Homo sapiens: one gene and its partner. The protein of the gene in region 1 purifies or fractionates together with the protein of each later gene. This does not show direct contact. Each region holds a gene or a part of one and is shown on either strand. Other genes may lie near its edges.

Region 1 (3,654 bases):
ATACAAAAATTAGCTGGGTGTGGTGGCAGAAGCCTGTAGTCCCAGCTACTCAGGAGGCTGAGCTGAGATTGCGCCACTGCACTCCAACCTGGCAACAGACCGAGAGACTCCATCTTAAAAACAAACAAACAAACAAACAAAAAAAACACCAATAATTATCAAGGCCCTCTTACCTCCAAAGTAGCAAGAAAGAAAGAAACAAAGTATGTGTATAGTAAATAGCTCTGTAGTAATCCATGATATAGGATATACTACATAACTAACTTAATTCCATTAAGCCCTTTATGGAATTTGCACAGCTATTTATAAGTGTATTTTATTTTTTTAATTTTTATTGTAAATGAGGTTTTGCCATATTGCCCAAGCTGGTCTCAAACTCCTGAGCTCAAGTGATCTGCCCGTTTCAGCCTCCCAAAGTGCTGGAAATACAGGCATAAGCCAGAGGACACCAGACCTATAAGTGTATTTTAAATGTCACTTATTAGATGTGAACCCTGTATTAGTTTCAGAACCCACAACTATATGGGAGGATGGCTATTTGTGATTCTTTTTTTTTTTTTTTGAGATGGAGTTTCGCTCTTGTTGCCCAGGCTGGAGTGCAATGGTGCTTAGATTACTTAATTATAATATTAATTTTTTTTTTTTTTTTGAGACAGAGTTTCACTGTTGTTGCCCAGGCTGGAGTGCAATGGCACCATGTCGGCTCACCACAACCTCCGCCTCCTGGGTTCAAGCGATTCTCCTGCCTCAGCCTCCTGAGTAGCTGAGATTACAGGCATGCGCCACCACACCCGGCTAATTTTATATTTTTAGTAGAGACAGGGTTTCTCCACGTTGGTCAGGCTGGTCTCGAACTCCCGACCTCAGGTGATTCACCCACCTCGGCCTTCCAAAGTGCTGGGATTACATGCATGAGCCACTGTGCCCGGCCTGTAATATGAATTTTTTAAAAAATCACTTGCTCAGTGTATGCTTTTACTTTTTTTTTTTCTCGTGACAGAGTCTTGCCCTGTCCCCCAGGCTGGAGTGCAGTGGCGTGATCTCGGCTCACTGCAACCTCTGCCTCCCAGGTTCAAGGGATTCTACTGCCCCAGCCTCCTGAGTAGCTGGGATTACAGGCATGTGCCACCACACCCAACTAATTTTATATTTTTAGTAGAAACGGGGTTTCTCCATGTTGGTCAGGCTGGTCTTGAACTCCTGACCTCAGGTGATCCGCCCGCCTAGGCATCCCAAAGTGCTGGGATTACAGGCGTAAGCCACCGTGCCAGCTATTTGTGATTCTTAATGTAACAATGATACTAAACTATTGGCCATCCTTCCACATAGCTAACTTTAGTATGGTTTTAATATTTGTCAATTAATATATAATTGTAACTTCTATTATCTAAGTAGCAGAAGTTAATGACACTTTTCAGCTTTAGGTGACTAGCGTTGTTCACAACCTATCAAATGGTCAGTTTCTTCACCTGAAAAATTAGAACAGAAATACATAACCTCTGAACTACCTGTTGACTCCAAAATTCTAAGTACTGTACCTATGTTACCATCTCTAAGACACAAACTCCTTAGTTTGAAAAGTCCTAGCCAGGCAGAGTGGCTCACGCCCTAATCCCAGCACTTTGGGAGGTCGAGGTGGGTGGATTACCTGAGGTCACCAGTTCGAGACCAGCCTGACCAACATGGTAAAACCCCGTGTCTACTAAAAATACAAAGTTAGCCAGGCGTGGTGGTGGATGCCTATAATCCCAGCTATTCAGGAGGCTGAGGCAGGATAATCACTTGAACCCAGGAAGCAGAGGTTGCAGTGAGCCGAGATCAGGCCATTGCACTCCAGCCTGGGCAACAAGAGCAAAACTTGGTCTCAAAAAAAAGGAAAGTCCTTAGCTGCAATTTGAAATTTTTTCAAATTATCCTTTACTTTCAAAAATAAAAATATTTCTCTAATTCAGTATTAATACAAAATATTCATTCATTCACTTAACAAGTATTTGTTCAGCACCCAATTATGTGCCAGGCATTAAGCTTGGCACTGAGAGGAATGAAAAACAGACACGGTATCTGTATTAATAAGGTTTACAGAGAAGCTAAAGAGACAAACCAAATAAATGTATGGATAAATGTAATATGAAGGAGTTGAAGGGTATGTAATGTAGAATCTTTTTTTTTTTTTTTTGAGACAGAGTCTCGCCCTGTTGCCCAGGCTGGAATGCAGTGATGTGATCTCGGCTCCAAGAAAAAGGGTTTCACTATGTTGGTCAGACTGGTCTCGAACTCTTGACCTCGTGATCCACCCACCTTGGCCTCCCAAAGTGCTGGGATTACAGGCGTGAGCCACCGCGCCCAGCCTGTAATGTAGAACCTTAAAGGCTTCCCTTAAGAAGTAACAAATGAATGACAAATGAACACATGGGCTATTTAATGTAAGGAACCTGTCTAGACAGAAATAAACATGGCATGTTCAGGAAACCAACCGAAGACCACTGTGGCCTGACATAACAAAAATAGGTAAAGTAATGCCCTGGAAACAGGAATGAAAAGCTCTAGTATAGGAAAACATATCTTAGCTCTTTCAAAGACATACTCTAAGAATTATTGTCAACGAAGCTTCAAAGCTTCACAATAGTTTCTCTCAAATGCTTAAAAAAAAAAAAAAAGCTGTCCTTTTTCTCCCTACAAAAGACCAAACTCACTCTCATTCTCTTCACATTTCACTGTAATGTCTTCAACTACATGATAAAAGTTACAACTTTTTAGTTCTACTTAGTTTAGATTCCTTAGAAGAAAGCAACTATATAACAACCAAAGTAAATATGGCGTTATTGCCCCTGCCCTCTGCCACTAAACTGCCCTGTGACTGATTTTGGTAAAGGTTACTTGAATACTTTGGCCTAACTTTCATTATCTGTGAAGTAAGAGGAGGTTCCAGAATTTCCTTTAAGATCCTTCTAATTCTAAGATTATGGTTCCACTGTAAAACCGCTTGTTCCTTTTTTTTTTTTTTTTTTTTTTTTTAAGACAAGGTCTCACTCGGTCACCCAGGCTGGAGTGCAGTGGTAGGATCACGGTTCACTGCAGCCCTGACCTTCCTGGGCTTGAGTGATCCTCCCACCTCACCCTCCTGAGTAGCTACGACCATATTTGCATTTTTTGTAGAGATAGGTTTTTGTCATGTTGCCCAGGCCTATCTCAAATTCCTGGGCTCAAGTGTTCCTCCCACCTTGACCTCCTGAAGTGCTGGGATTACACAGGCATGAGCCACCACACCCAGCCTTGTTCCATTCTTGAAAACTGACGAGAACAGGACCAAACACCGCTGAATTCCTTTGTAATTGCCTTTAAGATGTTTTTTGTTTTGTTTTGTTTGTTTGTTTTCGAGACAGAGTCGCGCTTTGTCACCCAGGCTGGAGTGCAGTGGTGGGATCTTGGCTTACTGCAAGCTCCGCCTCCTGGGTTCATGCAATTCTGCCTCAGCCTTCCAAGTAGCTGGGACTACAGGCCCCGCCACCACGCCTGGATAATTTTTTTGTATTTTTAGTAGAGATGGGATTTCACCTGTGTTAGCCAGGATGGTCTCGATCTCCTGACCTCATGATCCACCCGCCTCGGCCTCCCAAAGTGCTGAGATTACAGGCGTGAGCCACCGCACCGGGC
Region 2 (3,057 bases), on another chromosome or scaffold:
GTGGTGGCTCCTGCCTGTAATCCCAGCTACTCAGGAGGCTGAGGCAGGAGAATCACTTGAAACCAGGAGGCAGAGGTTGTGGTGAGCTGAGATCGCGCCATTGCACTCCATCCTGGGCAACAAAGCAAAACTCCGTCTCAAAAAAAAAAAAATTGCAGAATGGGCCGGGCATGGTGGTTCACACCTGTAATCGCAGCGCTTTGGGAGGCTGAGGTGGGTGGAAACCCCATCTCTACTAAAAACACAGGAGGCGGAGGTTGCAGTGAGCCGAGATCGCACCACTGCAGTCCAGCCTGGGCAACAGCGAGACTCCATCTCAAAAAAAAAAAAAATTGCAGAATATCTCCCCGAGGTGTTTTCTGAATCTGTAGGCTCTGAGAACATGTAGGATTCACTCCTGTGGCATAATTTACAGAAGTGTTTCCCTTGTGGACTGCTGGTTCTGAAAAGCTGACATCCCCGCAATCATGGGCCTCCTGAGCTCTGCTTACACCACGCTGACCGGTGTTTCCTCTTTGGCCAGGGTGAGGACCCTTTCACCAGTGAAACTGTTGATCCAGAAATGGAAGGAGATGACAATTTAGGAGGTGAGGATAAGAAAGAGACACCTGAGGAGGTGGCCGCGGACGTCTTAGCAGAGGTGATTACAGCAGCAGTGAGGGCCGTAGATGGGGAAGGAGCGCCCGCTCCAGAGAGCAGCGGGGAGCCGGCTGAGGACGAAGGCCCCACGGACACAGCGGAGGCCGGTAGTGATCCTCAAGCCGAACAGCTGCTGGAAGAGCAGGTGCCCTGTGGAACGGCACATGAGAAGGGCGTCCCCAAGGCCAGAAGTGAGGCTGCAGAGGCTGGAAATGGCGCCGAGACAATGGCAGCAGAGGCAGAAAGTGCCCAAACCAGAGTTGCTCCTGCCCCAGCTGCCGCGGATGCTGAAGTGGAACAAACTGATGCAGAGTCTAAAGACGCTGTTCCCACAGAATGATGCTCATTTCCCTGTTCCAGGGAAGGCGTTGGGATGATGGATGCGTTGGTCTTTCTCCCTTGGTTTGTAAGCAGTACAAGGGCGTGTGCTCCCAGAATATGCTGTAATCTAATTTTGGTGAAGAGACCCAGCGTTTCCTCCTGAGCAGTGCCTCTCACGGCTTGTCTCATGCAGTCGTGTGGCTTCTTGCCCAGGTTTCAAAGCTGAAGTACATTGTCCTTAGCGGCTGTAACATGTCTCTTGACAGTAGTGCACTTGGAATAATAAAGGTTGGGTGATTATATCTTGATGATACATTACTTGTTCAATACAGCCACTGATGGAATGCTTCCTTTTTTATTTTTTTCCTTAATTTTTTTTTTTATTTGGTTGGGAACAGCTGAATACTAGGAATATATCTTGCTCTATAGAGGATTTTTTTTTGTATGTTTCAAGCTTCAGCCTTTAACCTATACCTTTGTAGTGCACCATATGGTGTGTGACTTTCACAGGACTTCGCAGCACCTGGTTCACATGTGGCACTGACCGCGTCACATCCACGCACTCCCAAAGGCCAGAAGTATCTGACCGACCTACGCCACTGGAAACACACCCACCGCAACCTCAAGAACCAGACTGTGCAGAGGGCATTGCGTCCCAATCTTTAGTCCTTGCTGAATCAGTTCTCTAATATTTTACCTCATTTGTGTTCCACCTCTAGATTACTTCAGGTTTTTTTCCTTTAAAATTAGTTACTACCACTCAAATGTATTTACAAAGAGAATTTGGCCAGGCACGGTGATGCATACCTATAATCCCAGCACTTCGGGAGGCCGTGGTGAGAGGATAGCTTAAGCCCAGGAGTTCAAGACCAACCTGGACAACATAGCAAGACCCCATCTCTTAAAAAAAAAGGAAAGAAAACTTGATGTGATTGCCATAGGTGGAATAATCCAACATAAATTGCCATAGATAGAAGGTATCTGTAATATATATATATATATATAAAATGAAATATATGTTTCATTTTAGAGAAATAACTATTACTTTAGATCTTTCCAAATCTGAGAAAGGGAGGCTAGCATGTGTTCAAGGTTAGCACGCAACAGAATTTCCTAAAATCAGAAGAATTGGAAGATCCTCCCCTTTTGAAATGGCCCTGCTGTGTCAGTTTCCCTGTGGCCTTTTGAACTGTACATCTCACATGTTGGGAAACGCTGGCCACTGGGAAATCATTAGAAAGGAGGCTGTAGAATATTTGCCGAGCCTCTACTGTATACCAGGGGCTAACTCACCAAGCACATTCTAGGAATTGGGCCCTGCTCATGAGGAGCCTTAGTGGAGATTCCAGGTGAATATTTATGAAAAAGTCAACATTAGAACTGAAAATGGAAATAAACTGCTTGAAAAGACGATGGTGCCTCTGGGTCATTTCTGCTCAGCATCCGTTTGTGTTGTGTAGATGCGTCTTAATCGCAGGGTGAGCATGCCTTTTAAGCTTGTTCTCTTAAGGCAAAAATGTCGGTAGCATTAAACAGTAGTGCAGAAAAACATCACTAGTGGAACTGCTTTATTTCCTTAATTTTCTTTTTTTTTTCTTTTTTTTTTTTTTTTTGAGACAGTCTTACTCTGTTGCCCAGGCTGGAGTGCAGTGGCGTGATCTTGGCTTACTGCAACCTCTGCCTCCCAGGATTACAGGCATGAGCTACTGCACCTGGCTCTCCCCTACCCCACACCTTTTTTTTCTTCTTATAAAAATCCAAGACCCGGCCAGGCATGGTGGCTCACACCTGTATTCCTGGCACTTTAGGAGACCAACGCAGGTGGATCAGTAGAGGTCGGGAGTTCAAGACCAGCCTGGCCAACATGGCAAAACCCTGTCTATACCAAAAATACAAAAATTAGCTGGGTGTGGTGGCACACACCTGTAATCCCAGCTGCTGGGGAAGCTGAGGCAGAAGAATCGCTTGAACCAGGGAGGCAGAGGCTGCAGTGAGTCGAGGTTGCGCTACTGCACTCCAGCCTGGGCAACAGAGCAAGAATTTGTCTCAAAAAAATAAAATATCAGGCCAGGTGTGGTGGCTCATGCCTGTAATCCC

The links.
Region 2: the proteins of PDS5A (region 1) and AKAP8 purify together in Homo sapiens (affinity purification with mass spectrometry, with the first as the bait; one large-scale study listed by BioGRID). This does not show direct contact.

What each region holds. Positions count from the first base shown.
Region 1 is NC_000004.12:39,967,801-39,971,454, forward strand, and holds part of PDS5A (sister chromatid cohesion protein PDS5 homolog A), read right to left. Parts: intron 1-3,654. UniProt on the Homo sapiens protein: Probable regulator of sister chromatid cohesion in mitosis which may stabilize cohesin complex association with chromatin. May couple sister chromatid cohesion during mitosis to DNA replication.
Region 2 is NC_000019.10:15,352,837-15,355,893, reverse strand, and holds the end of AKAP8 (A-kinase anchor protein 8), read left to right. Parts: intron 1-523; coding exon 524-979; 3' UTR 980-2,509; downstream 2,510-3,057. UniProt on the Homo sapiens protein: Anchoring protein that mediates the subcellular compartmentation of cAMP-dependent protein kinase (PKA type II).